Regions from separate parts of the Homo sapiens genome. Here regions 1 and 3 are each linked to region 2. The links come from fine-mapping of genetic effects on plasma protein levels. A gene starts in region 2. Each other region holds a variant in brackets. All regions are shown on one strand. Distances are from middle to middle.

Region 1 (5,336 bases), 20 kb before region 2:
GTGGGGGTGATGGCTAAAGGCTTTCTTTTTGAGATGATGAAATCTTCTAAAATTGACTGTGGTGGTGGTTGCACAACTCTAAATATGCTAAAAATCATTGAATTGTACACTTTAAATAGGTGAATTGTATGTACAGTATCTGAATTACATCTCAAAGCTATCTTAAAAAGATAAATAAGCTCTGTGCCTCATTTTGCCTCCTACAGTGTTTCGTAAAGTTGTAGTACTAAAAGGGAGATTTGATAGCAATAATGATAATAATAATAAACAGGCTGGGCGCAGTGGCTCAAGCCTGTAATCTCAGCACTTTGGGAGGCTGAGGCAGGTGGATCACCTCAGGTCAGGAGTTCAAGACCAGCCTGGCCAACATGGTAAAACCCCATCTCTACTAAAAATACAAAAATTAGCCAGGTGTGGTGGTGGGCACCTGTATTCTCAGCTACTCAGGAAGCTGGGGCCAGGGAATCGCTTGAACCTGGGAGGCAGAGGTTGCAGTGAGCTGAGATCACATCATGGCACTCCAGTCTTGGTGACAAAAGTGAAACTCCATCTCAAAATAATAATAATAATAATAAACAATTTCTAAGTATTATTCTTAGTAGTCACCTACGCATGGCACTTTGTGCAGATGACTCCTGCATGTGTCAGGGTTTTTCTTGCGGGCAATGCAGTCTGATCAGTATAAACTAGGCAGAGAGGTATTTGATGAAGGGTTTGGGGAACTCAGAAAATGGACTGGGAAGCTAAGAACCAGGCATGGAAATGAGCAAGAACTAGGGGAGATTGGGGAGCAGGAGCAGAAATGGTCTTGCACCAGGGTCAGAAATGCCTGTGGTTGAAAGTCAGCTGTCTTCAGCGTTCAAACCTCTGTGCTCCAGATTCCAGCTCCAGGGTGGTTGGCTTAGTGGGTACCTGCCTCTCAGCCCAAGGAGAACAGAGCTTTCGATTCACAGAGCTTCCGATTCACAGAATTTCCAGCCTCCACTCAAGAACAACAGGGATCCAGGTGCTGAAAAGGGATAGATGCCTCCCACAGACTCCAGGGAAGCATTCAGTTGTGACCACCTCTACCCTTTTAAGGGATCGAAGCCCAGCCTAGCAGGAAACTGAGCTTTGGGGCTTTGAAATTTTGCCCCAAAGTGCTGCTAGAAGAATTGGATTAGATAGGATACCACCATGTCACTGACTACTTAGGGGGAAAAGAAAGCTGAGGTAGTGAAAACATTTAATGAAATCCTGAACACCCAGAGTAACCTATTTCTTCCTTGCTCCGTTCCCATTTATATCTGAGAACTGTGTTCATGCCCCAGATGTTGCAAGAATACTGCGGAAACAAAAGTGTTCGAAATAATTCTTTTTTTTCGAGATGGAGTCTCGCTCTGTCACCCAGGCTGGAGTGCAGTGGAGTGATCTCAACTCACTGCAAGCTCTGCCTCCTGGGTTCACGCCATTCTCCTGCCTCAGCCTCCTGAGTAGCTGGGACTACAGGTGCCCGCCACCATGCCCGGCTTTTTGTATTTTTAGTAGAGATGGGGTTTCACCGTGTTAGCCAGGATGGTCTCAATCTCCCGACCTCATGATCTGCCCACCTCAGCCTCCCAAAGTGCTGGGATTACAGGTGTGAGCCACCGCGCCCAGCTGAAATAATTCTTATGCTCAGGATCAAAATGATAAGGGGTCAATTGTATTAAACACACACACACACACACACACACAAACTTTGCCTTAAACATAAATGTGTTTCAGAAGCTTGGAAGCAGAAAATAATTTTAGGAGCTGAGTATTATTAATCAGCCTATGTGTTTTCAACTGCACCAAGAAATATAGCAAAGATATGCAAACTCTTTGGATTTAAGACATCACCTTTGTGTTTTGACACTCTTTCCCAAACCCCGCCTAAATGACAGGTGGGACTGTTTTCTTTTAAACAGTAAAGGCAGGGTCCTGAGAAGACACTTGAATGGGGCAATTGGAGGAGTGTTTAATCGATGAACTATTTACAAAGATGTGGGCAGGAAGACCATGATAGACTGAGCAGTTGGGGGGCTGGAAGCAGCAGGGTACCCCTAGAATCTACAGCTCTGAGGGGGTGAAGGAGAAGCAGTTTCAGGAAGGAGGGCGGGATGGGAGCTGATGGGGGAGGATGCAGTCACCTGAGGCCAACCTAAGGGGAAGGAGAAGCTGTGGAGTGGAAGCCAGGGAAGGAAGGGAGCCCTGTGACACCATCTGTGTAATCAGCCTCCCAGGAGGTGGAGCAGGGTGACAAGTGCACTCCGAGGGAGGGGCCACCAGGTGAGTCAGCCCAGGGCCCAGCTGCTAAGACCAGGGGCAGGCCTCCTCCAAGTGGGGTTGGGCAGGGGGGCAAAGGAGAACAAAAAAGCCACTTTACCTACTTCTGTATTGAGTTTTTAAAAAAGACTGTATTAATTTACATTGTAATTTTAAAATAAAAATGTAAAAATATTAAACATGACTCGGAAATCATTGAGTTTGAGGATCTCATGAGAAGTTGATGACCCTTCTTGAGGTAACTAACGACACTTTGGAAGGTGAAACCAGGTTGCTCGCCCACTCTAAGAAGGAGCGAGAAGGAAGAAGGAGAAACAGCACTGTGCCCCCTTCTCCCGCTGCAGTCGGGGCGAGATTTCCATGCTCTGGGAGGTAGTGGAAGGAAGCGTTCAGTGAGGCCCTTAAAGACAATGGCCCTGCCAGCCAGTTGTGATGTTGACAATGTTCTCCTGCAGGAGGGCGGGAGGCCTATAAAGTACCAAGCGCAGTCCTCCATGAGCAACGGGGAGGCGATGAGCGACCCTCTCCTCCAGGGATAGACACAGACCCTCTCCTCCAGGGATAAACACAGCCAGTTATGGCCGGGCGCGATGGCTCACATCTGTAATCCCAGCACTTTGGGAGGCCAAGGTGGGCAGATCACGAGGTCAGGAGATCGAGACCATCCTGGCCAACATGGTGAAACCC[T/C]GTCTCTACTAAACATACAAAAAAAAAAGTTAGCCAGGCGTGGTGGCAGGCGCCTGTAGTCCCAGCTACTTGGGAGGCTGAGGCAGGAGAGTGGCATGAACCCGGGAGGTGGAGCTTGCAGTGAGCCGAGATTGCACCACTGCACTCCAGCCTGGGCGACAGAGCGAGACTCCATCTCAAAAAAAAGAAAAACAAAAAAACCAGCCAGTTATATTTACCAGCTATTAATTAAATTTTTCACTGGAAGCAGTCTTGCCTTGTACATAGGGATGAAACACACACACACACACACACATACACACACCATATATATATTTATAAATGCATATATAAAAATTATGGTAAAATACATGTAACATAAAATTTACAACCTTAACCATTTCTAAGTGCTCAGTTCATTGGCATCAAGTATATTTGCATTGTTGTGGACTCATCACACCATCCATCTCCACAATTCTTTTTATCTTCCCCAACTGAAATTCTGTGCCCATTAAGCAAAATCTCCCCATTCTCCCCTCCCCCAGCCCCTGGAAACCACCATTCTATTTTCCGTCTCTATGAATCTGACTATTCTAAGAACCTCGTAAAAGTGGAATCATATAGCATTTGTCTTGTTGTGACTGGTTTATGTTACTTAGCATAATGTCTTCAAGGTCCATCCATGATGTAGCATATGTCAGAATGTCCTTTCTATTTTGCTTGAATAATATTCCATCGTATGGATATGTCATATTTTGTCTTTCTATTTATCTGTTGGTGGACACTTGAGTTGCATTCACCTTTTGTAAATATAACACATACACAATGACACACAAACTCCAGTATGTGCCAGGGACCCGCACTTGTTAAAGGGTCATCTATAAAAGAGAAAGAGAAAATACATGTGCCAACCTAAGTGAGAAGATGAGAAGCTTCAAGAAGCTTGAGTTGGGCTTCTGTGCATCACAAAGGTGGAGCCTGGACTGTCATCTGGGCCCGGCCTCTTGGGTAGTGGTCCCTGAATGACTGGCAGAACAAGAACATGAAATGGTCTCCACGCAGAAGACAGCCACGTGGAAGTGGCTGACTGGTAGACCAGCTGAGATGAAGACTACTCCAGTCTTCACAGCGGTGCTCAAATGGCCCCATCAAATCAAATGTAATGACCAGGCAGAGACTAGGGTGAAAACAGTTGTGGAAATCCATTTGTATGTCTCCTGTAATATATGATTGGATTAGCTCATCCCAACTCAATGAACTTCATTGCCAAGTTCTCCAGAGGAAAAGTCTGTCCTTCTAGTGCCTTCTGTTTTCACACAATAAGCAAGGATGACATTTTGGCGTGACTTGTTAAATTGTAGCAAATGAGACAACTGTCAGGGTGTAGACAAAGGCAAACAAATCACTTAGTGATTTGTCGAGTGAAAATCGACCTCAACTAAAGGCGCTCACTGGAGTCTCCTTGTGGCATTTCTCATGGGCACTTGCTTTCATAAGCATCGCCCTTTGATGTTATTTTGCTAGGAGAATGTGGAAAAGTGTATTTGGAAACACTGAGTTTCAGAGCTGATAGTAATGCTGTATCATTTCAATCAGAAAGGAATTTTGCAAAAAGGAACTGACTTTTTTGTTTGTTTGTTTTTGAGACGGAGTTTAGATCTTGTTGCCCACGCTGGAGTGCAATGGCGCAATCTCGGCTCACTGCAACCTCTGCCTCCCAGGTTTAAGTGATTCTCCTGCCTCAGCCTCCTGAGTAGCTGGGATTACAGGCATGCGCCACCATGCCTGGCTAATTTTTTGTATCTTTAGTAGAGATGAGGTTTCTCCATGTTGGTTGGGCTGATCTTGAACGCCCGACCTCAGATGATCCACCTGCCTTGGCCTCCCAAAGTGCTGGGATTACAGGTGTGAGCCACCGAGACCAGCAGGGACTGACTTTTAACAGATCAGTTATTTAAGCTTGTCCTCTGTGCCTGGGATGGTTTTAGGTACCTGTCTGCATTCACTGTGTTAATACAGTATAGTCCTCAAATACCGTTGGTCCTTGAACAACACAGATCTGAACTATGTGGGGCCACTTCTTGGATTTTCTTCCACCTCTGCCACCCTTGAGACAGCAAGACCAATTCCTTCTCTTCCTCCTAAGCCTACTCAACCTGAAGATGATAAGAATGAAGGCCTTGATGATGATCCACTTCCATTTAATGGAGAGTAAATATGTTTTCTCTTTGTTACGATTTTCTTAGTAACATTTTATTTTCTGTAGCTTACTTTGTGCACAGTATATAATATACACAGTATTTAATACCTACGACATAAAAATATGTGTTAATCAACATTAGATTATCAGTAAAGTTTCTGATCAACAGTGGGCTATTAGG
Region 2 (5,294 bases):
GCTCCAAATGCCCGGTTCCAGCCCCCATGATATAGATGGGCAGCAATGAGGACCAGAAATGCTGGGAAGTGTCCTTGTCATGCAAGGAAAACTTGGAACTTCAAGGATCCATCATGGGATGCAGGACAGTAGGCTCCACCCCTCTTCCTGCTTTCCAGTAAATGATGTTCAGGGCTCACATGCCTCTTCCAAGGCATGATGTGGGGTTGCAGTTCTGATCCCAGCAGAGAACAAGGCTCCTGTGAAACAATTAGTTTTGGCTCAGAGGCAAAAAATGGAAACCCCATTCCTGTATTTACCCTTCATTCTTTCCTTACCTCATACAGCTGGTTCCAGGTTTGATTGCATCATATACATAAATAAATAATCTGCTTTCCTGGTTTGGTTTAGTTTTGCTGGAGAGAGGAGTTTATGTGTTCATCCCATGACTAGCTGGGTGGTCAAGAGATTGGAAAGTAGGAGTTCTAGTTTAGACCAAGTCTCATCTCAGAAACCACAGAGTAGAACTGATCCCAAACGTCATCATCCCTGTAGGGAAAAGAAAGAGAGATCAGACTGTTACTGTGTCTATATAGAAAGGGAAGACATAAGAGACTCCATTTTGAAAAAGAGCTATACTTTAAACAATTGCTTTGCTGAGATGTTGTTAATTTGTAGCTTTGCCCCAGCCACTTTGACCCAACCTGGAGCTCACAAAAACATGTGTTGTATAAAATCAAGGTTTAAGGGATCTAGGGCTGTGTCAAAGTGGCTGGGGCAAAGCTACAAATTAACAACATCTCAGCAAAGCAATTGTTTAAAGTACAGCTCTTTTTCAAAATGGAGTCTCTTATGTCTTCCCTTTCTATATAGACACAGTAACAGTCTGATCTCTCTTTTTTTTCCCTACATATCCCAATAGCACCTGCCTGACTAATACATCATGCTCTGCTGACTCCATATGTGGCTGGTTTCCTGGATCCGATTCTGACTGATGGTATCTGTTCTCACGCTGCTAATAAAGACATACCAGAGACTGGGTAATTTATAAAGAAAAAGAGGTTTAATGGACTTATGTGTTCCACGTGGCTGGGGAGGCCTCACAATCATGGTGGAAGGTGAAGGAGGAGCAAAAGCACATCTTACATGGTGGCTGGCAAAAGAGAGAAAGCATGTTCAGGGGAACTCCCCTTTATAAAACCATCAGATCTCATGAGACTTATGCACTATCACAAGAACAGCATCAGAAAGATCCACCCTCATGATTCAATTACCTCCCACTGGGTCCCTCCCATGACACATGGGAATTATGGGAGCTACAATTGGAGATTTGGGTGGGGACACAGCCAAACCATATCAGATGGCTTATTTGGTTTCTATGTAGAACCTCTGCTTTTCATTCAACAGTCTTCATTTAGCCACAGATAAGCTCTGTCCCTAACTTCCACTGATGGAATGTACACATAAGAAACTTCCACTGATGGAATGAACACAGAAGGTGCCTACTGGGAAGAAAACTGGCCTGAATCTGAGCTGGGTCAAATGTCTGCAGTCAGTTTGAATGGCTGCTCCTTATGGGAATAATTTACATTCTCAATAAAATTCTCTAGCAATTTTCTGATTGATTTTAATGAGCTTTAAAGCCTTACGTAGAAGATCCCCCAGCTGATAGTCAGCCTTGGGCATGGATTAAGGGCTTTTAACCAATCTTGCAACAAGTTTAAGCAGATATTCTTTATTGGGTCCAATCTAACCAAAATTATTTTCTTATGTTCTCCCCAGTAACGTGTCATTATTAAGAGAAGTTTGGCTTGCTTAGAGGCCAAATTTAGAGGGTCCTGAAATTTTATTTTCTTTTACACCACTTTCCAGCATGTTACCTGATCAGTTGTTTATTATCTTTGCTGTTGAATGGAGTGATCATTCCAAGGGCCCGAGGCAGGAGGCCCAGGCACAGTGGAAACTCTCCCAAAGACCAGGATCTTTGTTTTGTTCCCTGACATATGCTGAGCACCAGGAATAGTGAGTGAATGAAACAAATTGTGAGGCTTTAAAGAGCCGAAATATTTAAACACTGGGCACAAGGTTGTTGCTTAATCAGTGCTAGATCCTTACCTCCCCCTTGTGTCCAGGTGGACTTGTTACTGCAGTTAAACCACTTGCTGATCCTCAAACAACTAGTTAGTGGCACAGCCAGGCCTAGGACCCCAGTCTCTACTGTTCCAACTAACCCATTCGCAGGCAGGAGCACTTTGAATGGTCTCTTATTTTAAAAAAATTAAATTAAAATTGTCTATTTATTTAGAGACAGAGTCTTACTCTGTAGCCCAGGCTCGAGTGCAGTGGTGCAATCATAGCTCACTGTAACCTCCATCTCCTGGCCTCAAAAAGTGTTTGAATTACAGATGCGAGGCACTGTACCTGGCCCGAATGTTCTGTTCAGACAAAGCCACCTCTAAGTCGCTGTGGGGCCCCAGACAAGTGATTTTTGAGGAGTCCCTATCTATAGGAACAAAGTAATTAAAAAAATGTATTTCAGAATTTACAGGCCCATGTGAGATATGATTTTTTTAAATGAAGATTTAGAGTAATGGGTAAAAAAGAGGTATTTGTGTGTTTGTTGATTGTTCAGTCAGTGAATGTACAGCTTCTGCCTCATATCCAGGCACCATCTCTTCCTGCTCTTTGTTGTTAAATGTTCCATTCCTGGGTAATTTCATGTCTGCCATCGTGGATATGCCGTGGCTCCTTGAACCTGCTTGTGTTGAAGCAGGATCTTCCTTCCTGTCCCTTCAGTGCCCTAATACCATGTATTTAAGGCTGGACACATCACCACTCCCAACCTGCCTCACCCACTGCGTCACTTGTGATCACTGGCTTCTGGCGACTCTCACCAAGGTCTCTGTCATGCCCTGTTATAATGACTACAAAAGCAAGTCTTACCTATAGGAAAATAAGAATTATAACCCTTTTACTGGTCATGTGAAACTTACCATTTGCAATTTGTACAGCATAAACACAGAACAGCACATCTTTCAATGCCTGCATCCTGAAGGCATTTTGTTTGTGTCTTTCAATCTGGCTGTGCTATTGTTGGTGTTTAACAGTCTCCCCAGCTACACTGGAAACTTCCAGAAGGCACTTTTCACTTGCTTGTGTGTTTTCCCCAGTGTCTATTAGAGGCCTTTGCACAGGGTAGGCTCTTTGGAGCAGCTGAAGGTCACACATCCCATGAGCGGGCAGCAGGGTCAGAAGTGGCCCCCGTGTTGCCTAAGCAAGACTCTCCCCTGCCCTCTGCCCTCTGCACCTCCGGCCTGCATGTCCCTGTGGCCTCTTGGGGGTACATCTCCCGGGGCTGGGTCAGAAGGCCTGGGTGGTTGGCCTCAGGCTGTCACACACCTAGGGAGATGCTCCCGTTTCTGGGAACCTTGGCCCCGACTCCTGCAAACTTCGGTAAATGTGTAACTCGACCCTGCACCGGCTCACTCTGTTCAGCAGTGAAACTCTGCATCGATCACTAAGACTTCCTGGAAGAGGTCCCAGCGTGAGTGTCGCTTCTGGCATCTGTCCTTCTGGCCAGCCTGTGGTCTGGCCAAGTGATGTAACCCTCCTCTCCAGCCTGTGCACAGGCAGCCTGGGAACAGCTCCATCCCCACCCCTCAGCTATAAATAGGGCATCGTGACCCGGCCGGGGGAAGAAGCTGCCGTTGTTCTGGGTACTACAGCAGAAGGTAAGCCGGGGGCCCCCTCAGCTCCTTCTCGGTCTTGTCTCTCTCAGATGTAACTGAGCTGTGGGCTAGGAGGAAAAGGCCGGGAGGAGGCACGGTGATGACTGAAAAACCTCTCCCCTCTCATAAGACCAGTCATCCGGACGCGGGCTTTCCCCCACTCGGTGCCCACCTGGGGTCTTACAGGAGGAGCTGCTCCTCCTCAGCAATAGGACAAGATGGTCAGGTCTTCCTGCTTCCGCTGAGAAAAGTTAGGGTCCTCAGGAACGGAGCAGACTGGTACAGGAACAGAGTCATCATGGCCAAGAGTCCACCGGGTCCTCTTGCCATCAGGAGGAATAGCAGGGCTTGTGCAGGAATTGGGGCTGGAGGGAAGGGCCGGGCTCGGTCAGTCTCCAGCTGGGATCCCCAGAGTGGTCACCCTACCCCTCCCTCGAGACAGACTGCCTGACTGTGTGTCATCAGGCTGGTCACCATCTCCCTGAACCTCGATTTGCTCACCTATAAAATGGAACTAATAACGATGCCTGGGCTCCCTGTCTCAGGGGCTCTGGTATAGCTGAAGAGAACTAATATAACATGAAAGTGCTTTCTAAGCTTTGGGATAAGCTAAAAGGCAGATTCCAATTTTATTCGAGGGCAGCGTAGATTGGTGCTTCAGCTCGTGGATGACAGAGTCAGGGGGCCTGGTTCTGAGTCCTAGTTCTGTCTCTTCCCAGCTGTGTGACGTTGAACAAGTCACTGGACCTCTCTGTTCCTCTGCAAAACAGCATGAACCAATTCATTAACTACTTCTCCAGGATGCAGTAGGTCCCAGGGACTATCCTAGGAATGTGGGCTGTATTAGTAAACACAACAGCGGGAACCCTGTTCCGGGGCTCACATTCACATCAGAGCAAACAGACAAAGACGCTGGACAGAATAAGTGCATAACTACATGGTACAGAGGGTTATAAGGAGGGAAAAGGGGAGCTGGATGAGAGAGTTGAGAGTGCCCGGTGTGGTGGGGAAAGCTGCAGGGTGAAATACTGCATCAGGGAAACCTCAGGGAAGGTGAGGACTATGGTGAGGTCAGAGGGGTTGATATGAGAACAGTGCCCTGCAAATGGCAGGCACCACAGGAGCATGAGCCGTCATCTTCACCTTTAGCATTCAGCCCGGGAGAAGTAGGGAGACATAGAAGGGGCAGGTGCTGGCCAAGAGGCAGGGGCAGGAGAGGAGAAGGCGGAGGGGCACTCAGGGCGAGGGTGTCAGGCCCGCCACCCCAGAGCACCATTACTCCCAGGACGCGGCTGCGTGCAGACCTGGAACCAGCCTAGGGAGCAGCCGCAGATCACAACTGAGAACAAACGACAGTCTCTGCCTCAAAAATGGCCCATGGAATTGCGTCTCTGGAGACGCTGCCTGAGCAGGAGCAGCACAGTGAGCGGGCTGCATCGACCAGCGCCATCCAAACCCCGAACAGTTGGCGCTTGTCAGGCAGGACTTCCCAGCAGTCGGTTCCCACAGGTTTCCCCTGTTGACCTGATTTGATGTGACTGTCTAGATTAGGTGTGAACTGGTGGCTTAGGCTTCTCTGCACAGAAA
Region 3 (5,336 bases), 26 kb before region 2:
CATGAAATGAACCTGACCTGGCATCTGGGGCCTTCCTGGCCTCTCTTTTCTGTGCTGTTCTTTCTCTGTCTCCTCCACACTCAGGCCTGTGGCGAACTCCCTTTGTTTCTCTTCTTCTTGTTCATCTTGAAGGGCAGCAGGAGGTGAACATAGTGCCTGGGTGGCTCTGGGATGCCATGGGGCAAAACCCCAAGGACAAATGCTCAGAAGCTTCACATGGGTGCAGGGAGATGACCTCTAGGACCCCACCCGGTCCAGGCCTTACAGCAGGGCCTGGGTTTTGAGGGATATGCCAAACAGCCTGGATCCTGCAGAGGGATCTCAGCCCTATGATGGGCTGAGAGTGAGCCCACCCGGCTGCGACATTTGTAGCCCCTTGGCTTGCAGTGTGGAGGATGGGGTGGGCTGGCGAGGAGGGTGGAGAGTGGAGAGGCAGGGGACCTGCACAGGTGTCCAGGTGAGAGGGGCTGAGGCTAACTCCAGATGTAACCAGAGTGAAGGCAGGAAGGGACAGATTCTTCTAGAAGTACTGTCAGGGCGTTCTGCTGGGGTGCAAGGGTGGAGGTGTAAAGGTGGCGTCCTGCCTTCAGACTTGAGCAAATGGGTGATGGTGGTGACAGAAGGAGGAGAGGCAGACTTGGAAGAAAAGTTGAACACTTTGGGTATGTTAAGAGTAAGACGACTGCGTGCAATGGCTCACACCTGTAATCCCAGCACTTTGGGAGGCTGAGACAGATGGGTCACCTGAAGTCAGGAGTTCAAGACCAGCCTGGCCAACATGGTAAAACCTTGACTCTACTAAAAATACAAAAAATGAGTCAGGCGTGGTGGGGGTGCCTGTAATCCCAGCTACTTGGGAGGCTGAGGCAGGAGAATTGCTTGAACCCGGGAGTCAGAGGCTGCAGTGAGCCGAGATCGAGCCACGGCACTCCAGCCTGGGCGAGGAGCGAGACTCCATCTCAAAAAGAAAAAGTAAAACACCCCCCTACTTGCTGAAGGGAGTGTAAATTGGTGTCTCCTTTTTGGAGAACTATTTATGAATACCTCTCAGAGCTACCAATGCACCCACTCTGATCCAGCTGTTTCCCTTCTAGAAATTTATCTTTATCCTGATGATAGAGCCGCACCCCGAAAAGTGAAAGGTATACCAGCTTGCTCATTTCATGGTGGCATTGTTTACATTAAAAAAGGTTGGAAAGCACTTAGTGCCCTCTGTTGGGGGAATGGTAAAGAAAATTATGGTCCAGCTAATCATGAAGTGGAACAGTGTACAGCCATAAAACGGAACAAGGAAACTCTGCATACACTGATGTGGGAAGGTCCCTGGGATACAGTGTTCAACTGAAAAGTCAAAGTGGCCGGGTGCAGTGGCTCACGCCTGTAATCCCAGCACTTTGGGAGGCTAAGGCAGGCGGATCATGAGGTCAGGAGTTCAAGACCAGCCTTGCCAACATAGTGAAACCCTGTCTCTATTAGAAATACAGAAAATTAGCCAGGCATAGTGGTGGGCACCTGTAATCCCAGCTACTTGGGAGGCAGAGGTAGGAGAATTGCTTGAACCCGGGAGGTGGAGGTTGCAGTGAGCCGAGATGGTGCTACTGCACTCCAGCCTGGGTGACAGTGCGAGACTCTGTCTCAAAAAGAAAAAGAAAAAAGAAAATTCAAAGTGCAGAATGGCATGTAGAGTATGCCAGCATTTGTGGAGAAAGAAGGCAAAAAATATTTATTTATATCTGCATAAAAATTTCTCGGAAACTACACAAAGATCTACTCATAATAGTGGTTCTGTTTTCTGGGGGTAGGTGGAGTAGATGGGGGTAGAGGAATGTGGGGAGACTTTTCTATATGCCTTTTATATTTTTTTAGCTTTAACCCTATAGATTTACCTGGTTGAATTTTTTAAAATTTTATTTTAGAGTCGGAGTCTTGCTCTGTCACTCAGGCTGGAGTGCAGTGACATGATCATAGCTCACTGAAGGCTTGAACTCCTGGGCTCAAGAGATCCTCCTACCTCAGCCTCCCCAGTGGCTGGGACTACAGGTGTACACCACAACACTAGCCTTAACTGTTGTCGACTTTTAAAAGCCTAGTTTGAAACTTAAAGCCCACAATGATGTTTTGGCCTAGGTGGGCTCTGCCTTCCCTCCCCCGTGTATCTCTCCTCGCAAGATGTCTGTACATTTGCAAAGGAGCTTATCTGTCCTGAGGGCCACCCCCATTTCCTAGAAGATGAGAACTAGATCTTCACCCAGACCTTGCTTCCCTATCCATCCCCTCCCAAGGTCATTGGTAAGCCTGACATCAGGTGAGGGTCTC[C/A]CTTTCTTCATCCAGGGACTTGTCCATCCCTGGAACACTCCTAGTTTCACCCCTGTCCTAGTGGGCACTCATTCATGAACCATAACAAATCTTTTCTTCAGTGGGAATGAGCCGTGCTCAGGCATCACACCATAGGGTAAGAGCCATCTCCTGAAAGGCAACAGAGCACCCAGCCCAAATCTCCCCCACACTCGCTGCTCCACAGGGTGATGCCAGTCTTTGGCCTCAGCTGTCTGACTCAAGAGATCCCAGCTTGTAGGCGCATAGGCTCGTGGACGACCTGGTGGTTCCCCTGGTTTCCCAGGGCTGCACAAGCTGCCTATAGCTTCTCTCAGCTCTGGCCTTGCTTTCTGGCTTGATTGTGGAATATAGTTTCCTCCAAGGCCTAATCTCCCTAAGTAAGCTCTAGATCACTGCCCCTATGGCCTAAGGTGACACCGTTGAAATTGTACTTCCGTCCCTGAGAAGTAGTTTCACTCCTTAAACATTCATTGTTGAAGAATGATAAATATACCTGTCTGCCTTCTGCTAACTCTCTGGGATTTCTTTCCCTGGAGTTTGACCTCAGCCCAAGACGATTTCCTTTCTCCTTCTCATCTAGGAGCTGGAGGTTGATGCTATGCACAGATCTTAGGATGACTTGAATCACAGGTGCAGCAGGATAGGAATTTACTCTCCGCAGTTTAGGGCCCAAAAAAATCCTAATTTTTGAGACAGAGTCTCCTCTGTTGCCAGGCTAGAGTGCAGTGGTGCGATCTTGGCTCACCGTAACCCACCTCCCGGGTTCAAGCTATTCTCCTGCCTCAGCCTCCCAAGTAGCTAGGACTACAGGCGTGTGCCACCACATCCAGCTAATTTTTGTATTTTTAGTAGAGATGGGGTTTCACCATGTTGGCCAGGATGGTCTTGATCTCTTGACCTCATGATCCACTCACCTCAGCCTCCCAAAGTGCTGGGATTACAGGCGTGAGCCACCGCATCTGGCCAAAAATCCTAATTAAAAAAAATATTATCTCTTCTTGCCCTCTGGAGTCCCCAGTTACCACCTCGCACCAAAACTTGTATTTAGATTTTGTTGTGTGACACTCTTATTCATTTTAAAATGGTCTCTCTTACTCTATCTCTCTTCTTCTGTCTCTGTAAACTAGCAGTTACTTCAAAGTTCAAATATCCTGTAAGGTTTGTCAGAGGTGTTTGAGCCAGAATGTCTCCAACTTGAATAGGGGTTGGGTAAAATAAGGCTGAGACCTCCTGGCTGCTTTCCCAGGAGGTTAGGCGTTCTTAGTCACAGGATGACATAGGAGGTCGGCAGGTCACAAAGATACAGGTCACAAAGAACCCACTGATAAATAAAACAAGATGCAGTAAAGAAGCTGCCAAAACCCACTAAAACCAAGATGGCGATGAAAGTGACCTCTGTTCGTCCTCACTGCTCATTATACACTAATTATAATACATTAGCATACTAAAAGACACTCCCACCTGCATCATGACAGTTTACAAATGCCATGGCAATGTCAGGAAGTCATCCTCTATAGTCTAAAAAGGAGAGGAAGCCTTGTTTCAGGGAAGCCTCTGCCCCTTTCCTGGTAAACTCATGAATAATCCACCCTTTGTTTAGCATATGACCAAGAAATAACCCTAAGTATACTCAGTTGAGCAGCCCATACTGCTGCTCTACCTACGGAGTGGCCATTCTTTCTTTACGTCTTTATAAACTTGCTTTCGATCTATAGACTCGTCCTGAATTCTTTCTTGCGTGAGGTCCAAGAACCCTCTCCTGGGGTCTGGATCAGGACCCCTTTCCAGTAACAGGTCCACTTTTCCCCAAATAAGTGATCTTCCTCCTCCTTCCTCCTTCTGATAGTGGCATCTAGGTCAGGGTGAATCTTACCAAACCTGCCACTGGAGCAGGGACCTCTGGCTCTCTGGGATCTTCTTGGTTGAGGTGTCTCTGGGAACCAGCTTCTTTCCTTACGGTATTTGCTGTGGAGGGGTCACAGCTAGCATAACTTGTGTTTCATTTTCCTATCGGGGGCAATGCACCGTAATTACCCCGGAAGCTCAGCCTGGCTCCAACATTTCCCGTTAATGATGAGCCCTCCACCTGGTTTCTCTGTGCTTGCCGAACCTCAGAAACTCATTTGCTCTTCTCAGTGGTCCCCAGCTTTGGGCTCTCAGCTCTGCAGACTCTGCCACACCATCTCATGCCCTGCTCAGGGCAACACCCTGGTGGACAAGGTGACTCTTAATTCCCAGCCACCCCCCGCCCCATAGTGGAAATTGTGATTGGACATTTATTATTATTATTTTATTTTAGAGACACTGCTGGAGTGCAGTGGCATGATCATAGCTCACTGTGGCTTCCAACTCCTGGGCTCCAGCCATCCTTCTGCCTCAGCCTCCTGAGCAGCTGGGACTATAGTCATACCCAGCTAATTAAAAAAAAAAAAAAACCTGTAGAGGAGGGAGTCTCAGTATGTTGCCCACACTGGTCTTGAACTCCTAGCTTCAAATGATTCTCCTGCCTTGGCCTCCCAAAGTGCTGGGGTTACAGATGTGAGCCACTGCACCTGGCCTTATTATGTTTAATTGGAGGGAACATTGATAAAGTCTGTTACATAGTAGCAAGAGTATCCCTAACATGCCTTACCACTGAGAAATAAGATTCTTTGCTGCTGGAGGTGTGTGAAGTTTTTCTATAGCAGAAGGAGATGTAATTTTTTTAAAAGTCCTTTGACTACAGAGATTTTTATATTGTCTGTGTACAATATTACTGGGTTTATTAAAATAATTTAATTTAAAATATCTCATTTGATTTATCACCTACATCTACAGTTGTGTATTTAGTTATGGGACATACATCTAATTGAATTCCCATCTTTTTGTGGTAAAGGTTTATTTTCAGCATCTCTTTATGCATCTCATCCTTTCCCACTCTCCATTTTCTCTTTTTAATGCACCATTTTCTGATTCTTATAAATGACGTATCCTCCCCCTTTGGCAAGGTAGCATTAGCC

Direction of the effects. Alleles are on the strand shown, and positions count from the first base shown. The strength of an association depends on the size of the effect and on how common the allele is.
For the plasma level of the protein whose gene starts at base 3,674 in region 2, C is the high allele of the variant in region 1 and T is the other (strong association).
For the plasma level of the protein whose gene starts at base 3,674 in region 2, C is the low allele of the variant in region 3 and A is the other (moderate association).

Evidence for each region. PIP is the chance, under the fine-mapping model, that this variant and not a neighbour inherited with it causes the effect. Protein levels are from antibody-based Olink assays in UK Biobank. Linkage for the fine-mapping came from a reference panel and not from the study's own genotypes, which makes the PIPs less certain.
Region 1: its variant is fine-mapped to the plasma level of the AGT protein (UK Biobank, PIP above 0.99).
Region 3: its variant is fine-mapped to the plasma level of the AGT protein (UK Biobank, PIP above 0.99).

Annotation. Positions count from the first base shown.
Region 1 is chr1:230,732,546-230,737,881 of GRCh38, reverse strand. It overlaps a transcript of AGT not described here. Among named protein-coding and RNA genes, the nearest start is that of CAPN9, 12 kb to the left of the region's middle. The variant T/C (reference allele first, on the strand shown) is at 2,977.
Region 2 is chr1:230,712,502-230,717,795 of GRCh38, reverse strand. AGT (angiotensinogen) reads left to right here and starts at 3,674. Exons shown (of 5, transcript NM_001384479.1): 1 at 3,674-3,710.
Region 3 is chr1:230,738,635-230,743,970 of GRCh38, reverse strand. It overlaps a transcript of AGT not described here. Among named protein-coding and RNA genes, the nearest start is that of CAPN9, 6.1 kb to the left of the region's middle. The variant C/A (reference allele first, on the strand shown) is at 2,317.